Linked DNA regions of Homo sapiens: region 1 is linked to region 2. Evidence: fine-mapped expression QTL. Tissue or cell type: putamen. Region 2 holds a variant in brackets; the other region holds the start of a gene. All regions are shown on one strand. Distances are between the middles of the regions.

Region 1 (8,112 bases), 53 kb before region 2:
CGAACCAGGTTCAAATAAGGCAAACACCCAGCTGTAACCAATCCAACTGTTTCAGTACCTCGCTTCCATTTTTTGAATGTCACATTCCTTTTTCTGTCCATAAAATGATCTGACCACGCTGCAGCACCAGAATTGCTCCAAACCTATTTTGGTTCTGAGGGCTGTCTGATGTGCAAATCATTCTTTGCTCAGTTAAACTCCATTAAATTTAATTTGTCTAAAGTTTTTCTAATAACAACTGAATGAGATCATGAATTCTGACAGATATGAAATTCCACTGGTGTAAAACATTAGTAAACATGTTTAATGAAACTCATGAAGAAAAAACATGTTCATTCCAAAACACTGGCCCACACCCTAAATATTGAAAATTCGATCTCCTTTGAGAAACTCTAAATGGTTGTGTTTCTCTTCATTAATAATAAAGATAAGAAGGACAATCTACATTGCATTGGATGGGTTACTTGCATCACTCAAAATGAGCTTAACAATTTACTCAGTTTTGAAAAGTAAATTCAGTCTTCCTATAAAAGGCTAAAATTTGTTGACCTATGGGTAATCATAAAAGAAAATTTTCTTAACACAAACGTAAGCTCTACTGGGCAGAAAAGACCATGTACTCTGAATTAAAGAAAGACTGTATTATGGTTAGAAAAAATTTAGAACAAAGTACGTTATACTAAAATACCTAAAGTTTATATATGGCAGGCCAGGCATGGCGGCTCATGCCTGTAAATCCCAGAACTTCGGGAAGCTAAGGTAGGAGGACTGGTTGAGGCCAGGAGTTCAAGACCAGCCTGGAAAACACAGAGAGACGTCTCTACAAAAATTAAAAAAAAAAATTACCTGGGCGTGGTAGCATTTGCTCACAGACCTAGCTACTTGAGAGGCTGAGAGGGGAGAACAGCTTGAGCCCAGAAGTCCAAGGCTGCAGTGAGCTATGATCATGCTACTGCACTCCAGCCTAGGTGACAGTGAGAGACGCTGTCTCTAAAAAATTAAAATAAAAATTATATAAGAGAACAATTACAGTATTCTTCTGATTATCTAAGAACTTGCTATTTTAATCTAGATGTTTTAGATTTAATCTATTTTACTGATCAAACTACTCTTGAATGATCACAAATCACTATGTTTTTACCACATTGCCAATCTGAAATATGAACAAACAAGACTGGCTGAGAATTGGGTAGAACAATTATGAAGAAACCATATGAAAAGGTGAAAAAAGAAAGCAGCAAGAAGGTCCAATAAAACAGGACACATTTTTCTTACAATGTTATTATATATTTAATCCATGTTTCTCATGATGAGATGCTTAAAGGCCTAAAAGTTACTTGGGAGTTTTGCATTACAAAATATCACAATTGATCCTGTTGCTAGATTTCTGCATTACAATTAAATCTAAGAGAAGAAAGTTGGTTTCTATTAAGTGTTAGGTTTTGTAATGTATTGTTGTAAAAGGGGAAAAAATAGGAGTTAATTTAGAAAAATTCTGGGTATATATTACCAGAGTTTGTCACTCAATTTGAAATCAGAATGGAAACTAACTAAGGTAGAAGACAACACATGACTGACTTAAAAAAGACATGACTTGTGTAGATTTCTTATTGGGCTTAATTAAATTGACTGAAGTTGGCTTTCAAAGCTTTTGTTTAACAGTGGTTTTTCAAATAAAATAACAACAAAAAATACATTCTTATTTCCATGTTTTGACAAATGTATCAGTTAGGGTTTCCTTCAGCTGCAAGCAACAGAAAAACCAACCAAGAGTAGACTGTATGATTAAGGGACTAACTTTTTTATGTTAAAAAATTTCTGATATGAGGTTGTTGAGGACTGGTACATGACTCCACGATATCATCAAGAACCCAGCGTCCTTTCAGTTTTCTGTTCCACCATTCTTGGCTTGTGGCTTTTTCTACACGGTCACAAAATAGCTGCTCTACCACCTCAAGGCTCATCTATATATAAGGCTGGGGCTTCTTAGTTTATCTCTTTAAAAATGACGTTTCAAAGTTTCATAACAACTGTTTTCATCTTACTGGTCGAGAATTGGGTCACAAGGTTACTTCTAATGGAAAGATGGTTGGAAACCTAAATGTTTTAGTTTTCAAGTTATGATGAAGGAAAAGACAAGAATGAAAGATTGTGAATGGCTTTTGAGTAGCTAGGCTACTGTGTCTGCTTCTGTGGGCAAGGGGATAAGGATGTTTATATAAAATATTAATATGTGATTGAAATCATTTCCAAATTACAAGAAGAGAATTTGTTTAGCAAATACTGACAATATGTGTTATTGTCTGGCCTTATTAAGGCATATCTAAATCTTTTAGTGAGTCCATGTAAAAGTCATTTTCTTACCACTCAGATGGTTTCTCTAAATTGCTGTGCTCCTGCTATGATTTGACCTTTGGCTGAGATGCTTTTTCAAATGCTTTTAGCTAAGCCCTGCATACATCTAGACACTCAAGCTTCAGGATAGTACAGATTTCAGCCCCATTACTCCTTTTCCAAGCTACAGCAGAAAAACCAAAACAAATATTGCAGATTTGTCCAGTTCTCTTAAGTATCAGCTAGGGAAGCAGGAAAAGTCCTCTCTATTATGTGGTGATTCTCCATATTAGAATCACCTAGGAATCTTTTAAGATATGCTGATACCCTAATATTTTTAAGGAGCTCTCTCTAGATGATTCTAGCGTGCAGCTAATGTGGAAAACTAGGCATTTGGAGAAAGAAGAGAAAAAGTTAGAAATAGCATGTAAAGCCTTGAGCATGTTATTGAACCTCTTTAAACTCACTTCTCTCATTGTTACTTACATGAATTAATCCAAATAAGTTTAGTTTGGTGTTTGGCTTACAGTAAACACTTAATAAATATTAGTCATTATTAATATTGTTTTATCAAAGTTCATATTTTTTCATCATTTTATTTGTGAGTAAATGGGGTTTCTCCAGGAAGCAAAAATATGTAAGACCACAGATCTTGAAAGCAGAGCTTGAAGAGAGCAAAATTTGGCATTCAAATCCCAGCTTGACCACTTAGTAGTTAATCTGACATTGAGCAGGCAAGCATTTGATCTGAGTCTCGGTTTTCTCATCTATTAAATGGGAGTGATACTTACCTCTCAGGTTGTGAAGACTAAAAGATACTATGTATGCTAAAGGATAATTTTCAAAAAAGTAAAATTATGACCCTTCTACAGTTATAAAAGAAACATATGTCAAAGATTTTATTTCAACTCTTTAATTACTGAGGGAACCACTAATATAGTAAGATCTGTTCAAATGAGAATTTGACTTATAGAGCTTTATAATCAACCAGTCAAAATTTGTTTGCTTTGGTATGAATAAGAATTTGCTGCATTGTCAGCAGTTTTCAACAATTTAACAGCTACCTCTGCAGAGCTGCAAAATAACCTAGTCAATAGAAAGTCAAGGTGTGAATTCTTGGAATCAGATAATCCAGGACTCCACTATAATGCCCAGCACTCCACTGAAAGACACCAGTGATCCTCTTTGCCCATTTCTGAGTCCTGACAAGTATATAAAGCACAAGGCAGAGTGTACTTGCCATGGAGTCAGTGATGATTACATGGTGGCTGCATTCATTATCCTTGAATAACATGATTATTTACCTAGAAAATCCAAACAAATCAACAAAATAAATGTATTATGACAGATAGGACAATTACAATCATTAAAATTTATCATTACTGTGACTCTTGAGTTCATGCTTCACATTCTTCCCTTCACTGTAAACATACCAATAATAACATTTTTAAAAATATATAAAGAAAAGTCATAGGCATATTCAAAAGCAGGATAATAGATCACATGCAGCACGATGCCAGAACTGAAGCCTCAGGCAGTGTAGGCAGCCAAGAGTTGGACTCACGTGGGGTGACAGAGCAAAGCGTTCTTCATAAAGCTGGAAGCAAGGACAGTGTTCCCTTTGCCAGCTCAGTGACTGGATCTCTAATATCCCCAAAGACTCCAAGCCACAGGAGTCCAAGCCACCAACTAAGACCATGCCCTGGTCTAGAGATGGTGGGGGGAGAGTTGGTGAAGGCAACCAAAAAACTGATATCCAAGGAGTCTTGAAGAGGAGGGAGATGAAAATTCCCACACAAGCTGAACCTGCAAACTAAAGCTTCGAAGAAAAGGAGAAAAATTAACCCTAAGAAAGAGCAAATAAACTTATCCAGGGCATTAATAGTTAACAGAATATGATGCAGAATTGTGGAAAAATAATGACATGGAAAACACGGTAAAAGAAGGGAAACGTTTCAAGGAAAGGTAAATGTCTTGAAGACTGATTTGCTCATTCGTGATTAGCTCTCAGCTCCAGTTCCACCCTATGCTTTCCCCCTATTGCAGGGAAGCAGAATCTGCTTACACCAGAGTCTTTTCCAAACCTTCCTTTCAGCTGTCTCTCAAAGAGAATTTGGCATTCTGGGAAGCAATGGGAGGCACTGGAAAAAACTGGAAATGAGGAGGATTTCTTCTCTTCTTGAAGTAGCTCTGATAAACATGGTGGCAGCAGTAACAGCAGCAGGCAAGCCTGAGCCCTGGACATCTGCTCAGGCAACATGGTTCAGACAGTAGATGCAGTAGCAGGTACCCCAACAACCTCAGTGGGACAGTTTCCCTAGGCTGCAACAGGGACAGCGGCTGATGACTTTTGGATCCTGGATACCTGTAGCATCAGCAAGAGCGCTAATTCCCTGCTTCCTGTAAAGCAGCTGCAGTGGGGTTCCAGCGGCATCAGGGGCACAATGACTGTGGGCTCTGGGTAGCAGCATCTTCCTTTCTGCTTCTCCTGCACTAGTATAGTGGTAACTTCTGGAAGTTACTATCTCTAGGTAACAGATCTTCCCTCTTTCGCTCCTCCAGCCCTTCCAACATGTTTGCAGCCAGTTTTCTGTCCTACATTCTGTCTGTTGATTCTGATTGCCTGAGGAGACACTGACAGAGTTGGCTATGCCTGCAGAATACGGATGACAGATGTGTTGAAAAATCAGAGAAGCTATGATAGTTAAAGAACTATAATGCCAGCAGGAATTGATCTGTCGTGCTAAAAACAAACAAACAAAAACATTACAAATGTATCCGCGTGTCTATAGACAGGAGGTTAGAAATGACTTGCTCTGGTTATGATTACAGATAATTTTTATTAGGCGAGAACTTCACAAATGCTAGAACTAGCCTATGTAAGCTCAAATCCCAGTTCTCCCAGCTTCTATCAGTATAGCATTGGGCAGATTTCTTAATCACTCTCTGACTCTTTTTCTCTAAATGCAAAGTGGTTGAAATAATATCTCAAAAAGTTATGGAAAAAAAGTGAGTCAATAAATTTTTTAAAATGGAGAAGAGAGACTGGTTCATGGTACTCTACAAGTGGTTTTCTAAAATGTTTTTCTTTATCCAGATCCTTACTGGTTAAAAAAAAAAAGAATGAGCATAATAATTTTTTAACCAATAAATAAATAAAATGTTTGTATTTATTTTCCAATTTTAATAAAGGATATATATATTACTACTGACCAGAAAATGTCATATATAAAAAGATAAACATGGCATTCCATAAAAAATGAACATAAATTATCTTAAAATTATTGCCAAATTTGTGATTTCTACAGTATTACAGGGTTGCAAAGCTTCTTGGAAGATAAACTAGACTCCTCTAACTTTTAGCAAGTCTATTCCTCTACTTTCTTCATATCAATAGCCAACATCCTGTCATGAAAATATTCATCTGGATTCACCTAAGTCCTTCTGAATATACGTTTTCCTCCTCTCACGCAGTTTTCAAATTGTATTTAGAACATTCAATCAACATCTTACATGTAACAATATTCTCTGTATTTAAACATTATGCTGTGCCTTTTCCTATTTATTGCCAGGTGAAATAGATTTTTCTATGGTTATTCACAAAAATCTCAAAGTAAAAATGAAATGAACTGATAAACTCATGAATTAATGTGTTATGTTAGGAAGAATACTTGTTTCAAATTGTAGGGGCTGCCATGGAGGGTGGAGTGGCTTTCCTGATTGATAAATGTACAGCTTGGCCCCTTCTTTGGGATCCTCCTTTCTGCAGAGAGTTCCAGTTTTCGTGTTCTCTTTCCTGAGGGACAGTGGAGGCCTAGGGGTAAGCTGGCTTCATTCAGGAAGATCACATTAACAGGCTTGTTCAAGCGGATTTTTCAGCAGTAAACCCTTTATTTTGATTTCTGTGTTTTATTCCTGCATCTTTTACTCTCAGTTTGTCCTAAAATCAGGTGGGGAAGAAAAGATAAATAGTGAAAAGATGAATAGTGATCCCCTCAAACTACAGCATGTTAACTCAGGCATATTACTTTAATTTCCACTTAAACCAGGGGCTCTTACCTGGGGTCCGCAAATGCATGCATAAACATGGATGGGAAAAGTAAATCACATCTTTATTTTTTCTAAATTTCTTTTTTTTTTTTTTTTGAGACGGAGTCTCACTCTGTTCCCAAGGCTGGAGTGCAGTGGTTCAATCTTGGCTCACTGCAACCTCTGCCTCCCGGGTTCAAGCGATTCTCCTGCCTCAGCCTGCCAAGTAGGTGGGATTACAGGCACCCGGCACCACGCCTGGCTAATTTTTGTATTTTCAGTAGAGACGGGGTTTCACCATGTTGACAAGGCTGGTCTCAAACTCCTGACCTCAAGTGATCGGCCTGCCTCAGCCTCCCAAAGTGCTGAGATTACAGGCATGAGCCACCACGCCCAGCCTATTTTCATTAAACTTCTAACTGACATTTAGCCTTTCCTTTCATTGTGAATGTAGACAGCAAATCACCATTGTAGGAGCAGAACAAGTCACCTTGTCACCAATAGTAACCACGGATATTTTAATCTCTTATTACTGTTATTGGAGATATCTCCAAATATCATTTACTTTCATCACTACTTTGAAATTATCATCCTTACTAGACTTGCCATTAAATTGCACATGACTGCAGCCTTCCTGTCTTAGATTCCTGTGTGAGGTAGCTGGCCAGCCATCTGAAACTGCCTCTTATTGGTGCTTAACATCCACGAAGTCACTTATTCTCAATTGGTGACCCAGACATCTACATTGCCTTCCAGTAAGTGAGATACTTTCATCGTTAGAGTTTTGCAAGACTGGACCACTTTCAAATGAGAACTCTTAACTCTCAATAAGAACATGCAACCTCATGTAACTCAAATAAGTGCAGGAGCTGCATGCAGACATGGCAAGTTCAAAGGCATCTGACAGTTTTCAGATCACTGCAGAAGTGTGAAGTAGCTTCCTATTATTGCTAACAGATACGTATCACACAGTGTTGTAAGATCTTGAGTAGCAGAATTCTTTTGTTTTTCTCTTGTGATCCCTTTTTGTACACTGGGTGTATTAAGAAGTAAAAGCATGTCTAATCAATGTGCCGTACCAGTGGTACATTACTGCATTACTTTTCTATGAAAATACCACACATTTTAAAAATAAATTCAAGAAAACCATCTACAATCCCAGAAATGAGAACTATTATTTCTAAGAAGACACAGAAAGCCACATGACTAATGCTGGAGAGAGTGCTAAGCCAAGATACAAAATTCTGTCAATTTCCTTGAAAAAAAGAGAGCTCTACAAAGACCTGGAAACTATTCAGAACATTTTCTAAAGTGACGTCAATTTTGATGGTATCAAAGTTAAAGCATTGTTGTGATGCTGTAGCGCCCTTAAGCTCCACTAGCTCTGTCTTCTTCTAGAGCTATACCTCATCCAGTGGCATGATCTAAATAGCATCTATATATTTTTATCTCAGTCTGTTGGCTCCCTTTAGCATGACGAGATTTCACAGCCAATGAAGCTTGATTTTGAAAGCCTGTATAAATTAGCCTGCACTATGAATCTCTGAGAAATTGATGACAGCTCCTCAATGTATTTCTCTAGCCCTGACCCCTCTTATAAGCAACGTAGTCAAATACCCAGTTGAGTTCTCTGATTACAATCTTCACATGAAAATATCAGATATTTCAAAACCAACAAAAGCTTTTGTCTCCCAAATATACTCCCACGCAGTCCTTGCTCAACTTATAAATGCATGTTCATCTACCCAA
Region 2 (8,112 bases):
CCATAAAAACCTTAACTCTTTTAGCTTCCTCTATCAAACTACCTTCACTTATTTTTTTGAAAGTATAAAGTTATATGTTTGTTGTATTATTTACTAGGAATTTAACATGTCTTTTAGTTGTATTAGTATTTATATTATCAATTATGTTAGTGCTCGACTAATTAGAAGGTTAATATAATTGACTAAATTTGATAAACCAAGGAGTATAATATATAATTTACAGATATGCAGATAACTATCAGAAGAATAAAAATAGAAATTGTTTAGAAATTTAAAACTAGCTCCTCAAAGAGTTACAAATTAAAACCATAGATAACATTTTTACCTGCCAAATTAGCAAACACTACAAATCAAAAACACATTTTATTTCCTGTGCTGATGAGGTATAGAGAACTAATGGCAGTATGAGTAATAAAATACCTTTTCAGAAGAAATGTAGCAAAGCATATCAAGAACAATCAAAATGTTCATATTCTTTGACTCAGTAATTCTACATGGGAATCTAAGCTAAAGACAATACAACAAAAAGTTTATGTATGAAAATGTTCATCAGAGCATTATTATTATTAAATGTTAAAAACATTGGGAATAACCTGAATGTCCAACAAATAGGGAATCACCTAACACTTCTACGTTGACTATATATTACAAAGTAATTTAAAAGGATGCTTATAAAGAATTTATATGTTATATACATAAATCTGTTTCCATTTTAAAGTGAACAAAGCAAGATATTATTTTAATAACAACTACGAAAAAACAGAAATATTACAAAATATAGTTATCTCCAAGGAATGTGAGGTCAATGATCACTCAGTTCTTTTCTTTTTATATTTCTATAGTTTCCAGTTTTACTGTAATGAGTATATATTCTTCACTCAAAAGATAATACTGAATAAATTGTCAGAAGTTGGAAGAACTATGTTCACTGAATAACTGAACTTCTTTTATTAAGAAAACATGAGTAGTTCATATTGCTTGAAGAACCATAAAGGACTTACAAAATTTCTTGAAGGAAAAAATTCTAATTCAGAATATCACAATGTCACTGCTAAAAAAAAATGGTATTAAGGTACACTGCAATTTTGATTTTTTAAAATCTTTCTTAACAAAAAGTAGCCGAAATAAGTGCATTACTAAATACATTAAAGGTGAGAAAAGAAGACCTTGCTACTTCCTATAACGTATATCACTTAGATTCCTATTTCCTCCACTCACTCTGAATGACCACAGCCAACAGGACTGGCAATTTCAAGTCCTGCATTTGAAACCAATCGAGTCTTTCCACCTGGAACAAAACAGACTTGAGATTTGTGAGCCTAGCTTTGTCCCATTGGTCTAAAGGAGACTGAAACTCAACATCAAGATGAGAAAAGTTACAACTTTGTAAACCTACAAAGGGAAAGAATCTTTTTGGCTTAGGCAATCTGTTGCCTTCTGTAATATATAATACACAAGCTTTAATTACTATACACTGTACTGCATAACACTATGTATCTCCCACAAAGACAGATCAGTACGTAGCAAACAGATTGGCTCCTGAGAAAATATGCTAAGACCTACAATGGATAAAATTCTCTTTTCAGGCCACAACATTTTAGACCTACATAGAAAGAAGGGTTTAGAAAGGGTAAAAGAGATTTGGATGTATCTCAAGTTTCCATCAGAAAAATAATCTTTTAAAATAACAATTCAGAACCTTAAAGCCTGGAATGCTATCATTTTATTAAAATAATTTCCTTTGGTGATGATTTTTAAATTGTGTATATTTTTTCTCATAAACATACTCATTTTTAAAAACCCACTGCAAGCTTTATATAATGCATAATTCTAAACAGCCAGTAATTATGTTTCCAAGAAACAAGTGCATTTCTAATGCAAAACAAACAAAGAAAAACAAACCTTAAATCAAGAAAAAAAAAAGCCTTAGACCTTCACTTCTCTTTTAATATTAAAGATCTTTTCTCTCAAGGACCACAGAATATATCTGCAATATCTCTTAGGAATTTAACATGTCTTAAGGACATCTTAATACATAGAATAAATGTATTATCATTTAGTTAATTCTAAATATCATTTAGTTAATTCTAAATAGAATTAAACTGTTATAAATACAACAAAACAATGTTAGATGCTTATATTACAAGTTTCTCTAAAATGTACTCTATGCTACTAATATATTATTTATCCTGTGCACATAAACTTTATTTCATGGTTTTAAAAGGTTCTTTTCTGTCTTCTATTTTCTGTCCTCTAAAAGTATTATTATGGAAGTGAAAATGATGCCATCATCTTTCAAGTTCCATCTGGTTGTATGTATCTCTGGTTGACTGAGAACTCAAATATCTTTTTTTCTCAGAAAATTCAAAAGCTTCTCCCCTGTCTCTCCTCTGGTACCTATGGAAAGCAATTACCCCTTGGATATGAGTAAGTTGGAAAATTCTTTCTGGTTATGAAGCAGCCAAGAACATACTTTCTGGTTTCAAACAGACCAGGCCTGAGGTTATATCCTATTGTAACCATGACATCTAGAAATAATCTTATGTACTAAAGTTAATGTAATTTGGATGATTCATTTAACTGCAAAAATGCATAGTAGTTTATTTTAAAAGTTGAGGCAAAGAGACAGTCAACTTCATAAATATTATTTAGTACTGCTGAAAACATAATATCCTGACAAGCATAGAAGACAGAATTATACAAGAGCACTGCTCTAAACATACTCTTTCTTCAAGCTATTTCTACTAAGTAGACTATGGTCATTACACAATACATGCCTGCTCAAACACTCATACATAGTACCTTTAATTTTGTATTCTCAAGATTCAGAGTTTCATTTTCATATTCAATTGAGTGAACTTTTCTAAGAATTTCTTCACATGAATTTTTTCCATGGTCTTCCATTTTCTTCAGATCTTCCAAAAGATTAATGATTTGCCTTTATAAAATCAATGACACATTTTATAAAAGTCATAAAAATTTTTATTCAAATAACACATTTTAAGTGTGTTTCTGAAATCACTTTGGCCGGGTGCATCGTTTCAAATAGGGAATATACAAAAAATAAATAGAACTCATAGAACAAGAAAAATAAGAAGAAGTAATCTAAAAGGGTACAACCAAAGTAACTCTGATTAGAAACAATTGCCCACTGATGATACCAACAAAAAATTATACAACATGCTCTTTGCTATTCAATAAAACTTCTAAACTATTATCCACAAGTATGCACATCTCTCTCTTCCTGTCATTCATACACATGCACACATATATACACAATTTTAGGGACAAGGTTAAAGAAAAGAATTAAGTGAGGCAATAAAACTAAACTTTAGAAATGAATTATATATGGTAGTTTTCAATGACAAAACTGAAGACACAGAAAACACTTAAAATCAAATATTCAGGGTTCATTATAGTGTTATCAGTAATACATTTCAAATAATAAAATATATGTATTTTTATTTTTCATTTTCTTTGTTATGCATTTAAGTCACTTTAAGGAACAATCATTTTTACGATTTTCAAAGCAGTTATTATAAACTTTTAGATATATTTTCACACATTCTTGTTTAAAAGAGAAACATCACCTCCATTTAAGAAAAAGTAAATATTAACATTTACTACAAATAATAGATGGCATACTGAAATATTGAATGATAATCTACAAGTTTAAAATTTCAAAATGTGGGCCAGGCGTGGTGGCTCACGCCTGTAATCCCAGCACTTTGGGAGGCCGAGGCAGGCGGATCACAAGGTCAGGAGATCGAGACCATCCTGACCAACATGGTGAAACCCTGTCTCTACTAAAAATACAAAAAAAAACAGCTGGGCTTGGTGGTGCATGCCTGTAGTCCCAGCTACTAGGGAGGCTGAAACAGGA[A/G]AATCACTTGAACCCAGGAGGCGGAGGTTGCAGTGAGCTGAGATTGCACCACTGCACTCCAGCCTGGCAACAAAGTGAGACTCCATCTCAAAAAAAAAAAAAAAATTAAAAATGTGAACACCAATTCACTTTTAATGAGCAATCATTTTAATTATTTTTAATAATAGAGTAAGAAAACTTTATTGAATTATAAATAGCAAAAATATCAAATCATATAGGTAGCACCTTTACCATATGTAATCTAAAAAAAATCAAAATACAAACAACTCAAAGAATTTTTTAAAAAGTGAAAACTCTTACTAAATAATAAAATATTCTAAATTTTTTCTTACTTTTTCATTGTTTCAATCTGTACTTCCAATTCGGTTTTTTCTATCACAATTTTCTCATAATGACTTTTCCAGGCATTGGAAGCTGAAATTGTTTCAGACAACTTGGCTTCCTAAAAAATACATAAAAGTATTCATACTATAATTTTAAAACATTTTTGTTTTGTTCAGATCTCTAAACACAAATACATTATAAACAGGGAAGCAATCTTCCAAAAAGTATGGAACTTCAAATATAGAAAACTATACATGCATGTTTATAGCAGTGCAATTCATAATTGCAAAAATATGGAACCAGCCTAAATGCCCACCAACCAATGAGTGGATAAAGAAAATATGGTATATATCCATCATGGAATACTACTCAGCCATTAAAAGGAACATCTGCAGCAACCTGGATGAAGTTGGAGACAGCTATTATAAGTGAAGTAACTCAGGAATGGAAAACCAAATATCGTATGTTCTCACTCATAAGTGGGAGCTAAGCTATGAAAATGCAAAAGCATAAGATTGATATAAAGGACTTTAGGAACTAGGGAGAAGGGAGGGAGGGAGGTGAGGGGTAAAAGACTACACATTGGCTACAGTGTACAGTGCTCGGGTGACAGGTGCACCAAAATGTCAGAAATAACCACTAAAGAAGTTGTCCAGGTAACCAGAAACGACCTGTCCCCTAAAAACTATTGAAATAAATAAAGTCACTGTACAACTTTGAATAGAAAAATTGTAAAGTAAATATCTATATTGCTATTATTTCATATACACATAGTGGAAGTTTCAACTTAAATTTTAAAAGATGTTGCAACTATTTTTAAACAATATTTCATAATTAAGATAATTTCTTTTCTTTTTACTGAACTTTCCATTTTACTTTTTTTTTTTTTTGCCCTGGCTGAAGTGCAGTGGCACGGTCATGATGGTTCACTGCAGCCTCCAACTCCTGAGTGCAAGGGATCCTCCTGCCTCAGCCTCCCTAGTAGCTAGGGCTACAAATGTCTGCCAACCACAGCCACCACATATATACACATGCATATATAAAATATATCTAGATACATATGTATATACTATATATATATGTTATACATATATATTGATATATATAACTACTCTATATATATGGTGTATATACTATATACTGTATATATATAGTAGAGACAGCATCTTGTTATGTTGCCCAGGCTGGTCTTGAATTAATTTCATGCTCTATAGAGAGAAGATGGTAACAAACACATAAGCATCAGAGGAGAAAGCCCCTGTGATATACACAGAAACTATCCCCAATTCCACAGCTCCATAACATTTGGTGATGTACCTTACTTGTCTTTGCTATAATGACGCCAAGATCTATTTTGTAGAGGTCACCCCATCAGCCTTCAAACACTGCTACCGTCCACACAGAGATACAAGTGGTAGTAGTGGCTTATTCATTTTGAATGTGAACTCCCATGAGGTAGGGATTTTTATCTGCTTTTGTTCATGGCTATATTTCTAGGGCCTTGATAGTGCCTGGAGCACAGCAAACACTCAATAAATAGCTCAAATAATTCTCTGCAGATCCACCTAAAGAGCTGTAGCCACTGTGCCTCCGCTCTACATTCTACATAAAAACACACTGGAAGGCCACAATGCCAGTAATTACAAATCAAAAAGCTTAGAAACAGTAATGACAACAATTAACATTTATTGGGTACTTCTTTCTTTCATCATTCATCCATTTACTGAGCAAGTATTTACTGAGCATGTATTACGTGCAAGACTTTTTTGTTTAAATTTTTTCACAGGAATATTTTGATATATTGAAGACTAGTATTGTTTTCATATTTTGTATAAAATAAGCTTTAATATAAATTATGAAGTATAAGTTTATAATATAAATTAAGATATTTAGAAGTTTTATCAGTAAGAAAAGAATTTATATGTTAGCAATATAATTATTACCTACTTCATCAGTATGGCATTCCTAGATGTTGAAACTAGTCAGTGATGGAATCACCTTCCTAGAGATTTTTTGAGTTGGCCTACCTTTTCTCTTTGCTTTAGAGAAATGGCACATCTAAGCCACGAGAAGCAAAATTAGGATCTAATTTTCAAAGAAGGAAATGGGTTAATTCTTCAGTGTGCAGAATTATAGAGCATTTAACATCCTGGCCCCTAGGTACTAAAAGTCAGAATCAGTGGTCTCTCGTACTTTCCAAATCCCCATTTCTCCTTTCATCTCTCCTTATAACATGCAGATAAAGCAAAATACCCCTTTTCACCTTTCCTTCCACTGCATTGAAACTGCATGTGAATTAGTAACTAGTGACCTTCTAATTACCAAAGACCACAGACGTTTACAAATCCTCCTTGTCCTTGATCTGTCTCTGTAGTCCTTGGCAAAATTTACGCATTGTGTAGATATGTGATAACATTTTGTTAAACTATTATTTAGCTCTTATTGCTGAACTGTTCATATTTTAGACTTAAGGTACTGTTTTAAATAATGGTACCCTTACCTTAGGTGAATAGGATAGCAAGCTCCTGCCTTCTGAGACTTATACTCAAGTAGAAGGAAACAGTTAAAAATAAAACAAAACACAACAGCAGTGATAAATGAAAAAATAAATGATATAGTTTCAGATTATAGTGAATGCTATGAAAAAAATTAAGACATTGATATGATTGTTTTAGAACTACTTCAAAAGAAATGGTCAAGAAAGGCCTCTCTGAAGAGATGTCAATTGAAAAGATACCTGAATGATTAAAAAAAGAAAGAGCTATTGTGAGCCAGGGAAGAATATTAAAGCCAGATGCAACAACAAACAAGAAAAACAACAAAACAAAGAAAAAAACTTCATGCATTACAGCAACAGAAAGGAGGACAATGCAAAAATATATTTTCTCATTTATCTCTCCCTACAAACACATGAGATAGGGAGTATTATGATGCCCTATTTTATACATGAGGAAATTGAAGAGGTTAAGTTCCTTATCCCAAGTCACAAGGTTAACAAAATACTACTTTGTTTGCCATAAACTTTTTATACAAGTCTGTTTTCATTTCTAAAAGCCTCTAATAATTCTATAAGCCTTAACATAAGTTCTTAAGAGGCAGGATATCAGTGAGACTTTTTTAAAAAAATTATTAATTAGTAATTGAATAAATATAATAATTTATCAAAAACAACAAAGCACTAAGGCCATTTTCAAATTTGTACTATACCAAAGATATATTTTACTTGGTGTGTTTATGTCAGCACATGGTTTTAAATGTATTACAGAGATTAAATTAGGTTAATTACTGAATAAAGTCATAGGGTCTAATAACATAAATCAGCATTTCTCAAACTAGTGTTCCTCAGAACCAGTTCCAAGAGTTGCTTTGTGCATAAAAGACTAGCTCTGTGGTTAAAAAAGTGTGGGAAACTCTTAGTTCAATACCCTTCATTCCACTGTTTCTGAAAGCCTTCTCAGAACCTTTAATTTGCTAACATAGACCACAATGTCCCAAGGGGAAATATGTATGAAGTATTACCCTTAGTTAGTTGGCCAATAGAACCTTTTTTTGTGTGTGGAGGCGGGGGGGACACACTTAATATTTCCTTTAAGTAAAGTTCCCAAGGAAATGCTGATATATTTCAATATGAAAATTTGACATTTTATGTAATATTTCAAAGTAAAAGATTAAAGCAAAAAGTGTAAGTTTTTTCTGGTATTAACAGCATTAAGAAAAGAATAAAATTACTATATTAAGCATCATGATATTAATTATATAAACTACGTACATAATAGATCTTTTAATTTTAAAAAGAATGCATTTACATACCTGATCTCTAATTTGGGAAGTAAGCTTTTCAATAGCTCCTGTAAAATGGTCAAGCCTTTGTTTGTAAACTTTAGATGCCTTTTTTAAAGCTACAG

Which allele goes with the higher level. Positions count from the first base shown, and alleles are read on the strand shown. Sizes are in standard deviations (SD) of each study's normalised expression.
As copies of G replace A in region 2, the expression in putamen of the gene that starts at base 4,844 in region 1 goes up (moderate effect, 0.44 SD a copy in GTEx).

What was found. PIP is the estimated chance that this variant, and not a neighbour inherited with it, causes the effect.
Region 1: it holds the start of LINC02795, and the variant in region 2 is fine-mapped to the expression of LINC02795 in putamen (GTEx, PIP 0.95).

What each region holds. Positions count from the first base shown.
Region 1 is chr1:86,314,758-86,322,869 of GRCh38, forward strand. It overlaps LINC02795 (long intergenic non-protein coding RNA 2795), which reads right to left and starts at 4,844. Exons shown (of 4, transcript NR_187380.1): 1 at 3,899-4,844; 2 at 3,575-3,638. LOC105378825 (a long non-coding RNA gene) reads right to left here. Exons shown (of 3, transcript XR_007066205.1): 3 at 5,547-6,274.
Region 2 is chr1:86,368,216-86,376,327 of GRCh38, forward strand. ODF2L (outer dense fiber of sperm tails 2 like) reads right to left here. Exons shown (of 17, transcript NM_001366781.1): 8 at 8,018-8,112; 9 at 4,216-4,325; 10 at 2,803-2,938. Among named protein-coding and RNA genes, the nearest start is that of MIR7856, 15 kb to the left of the region's middle. The variant A/G (reference allele first, on the strand shown) is at 3,884.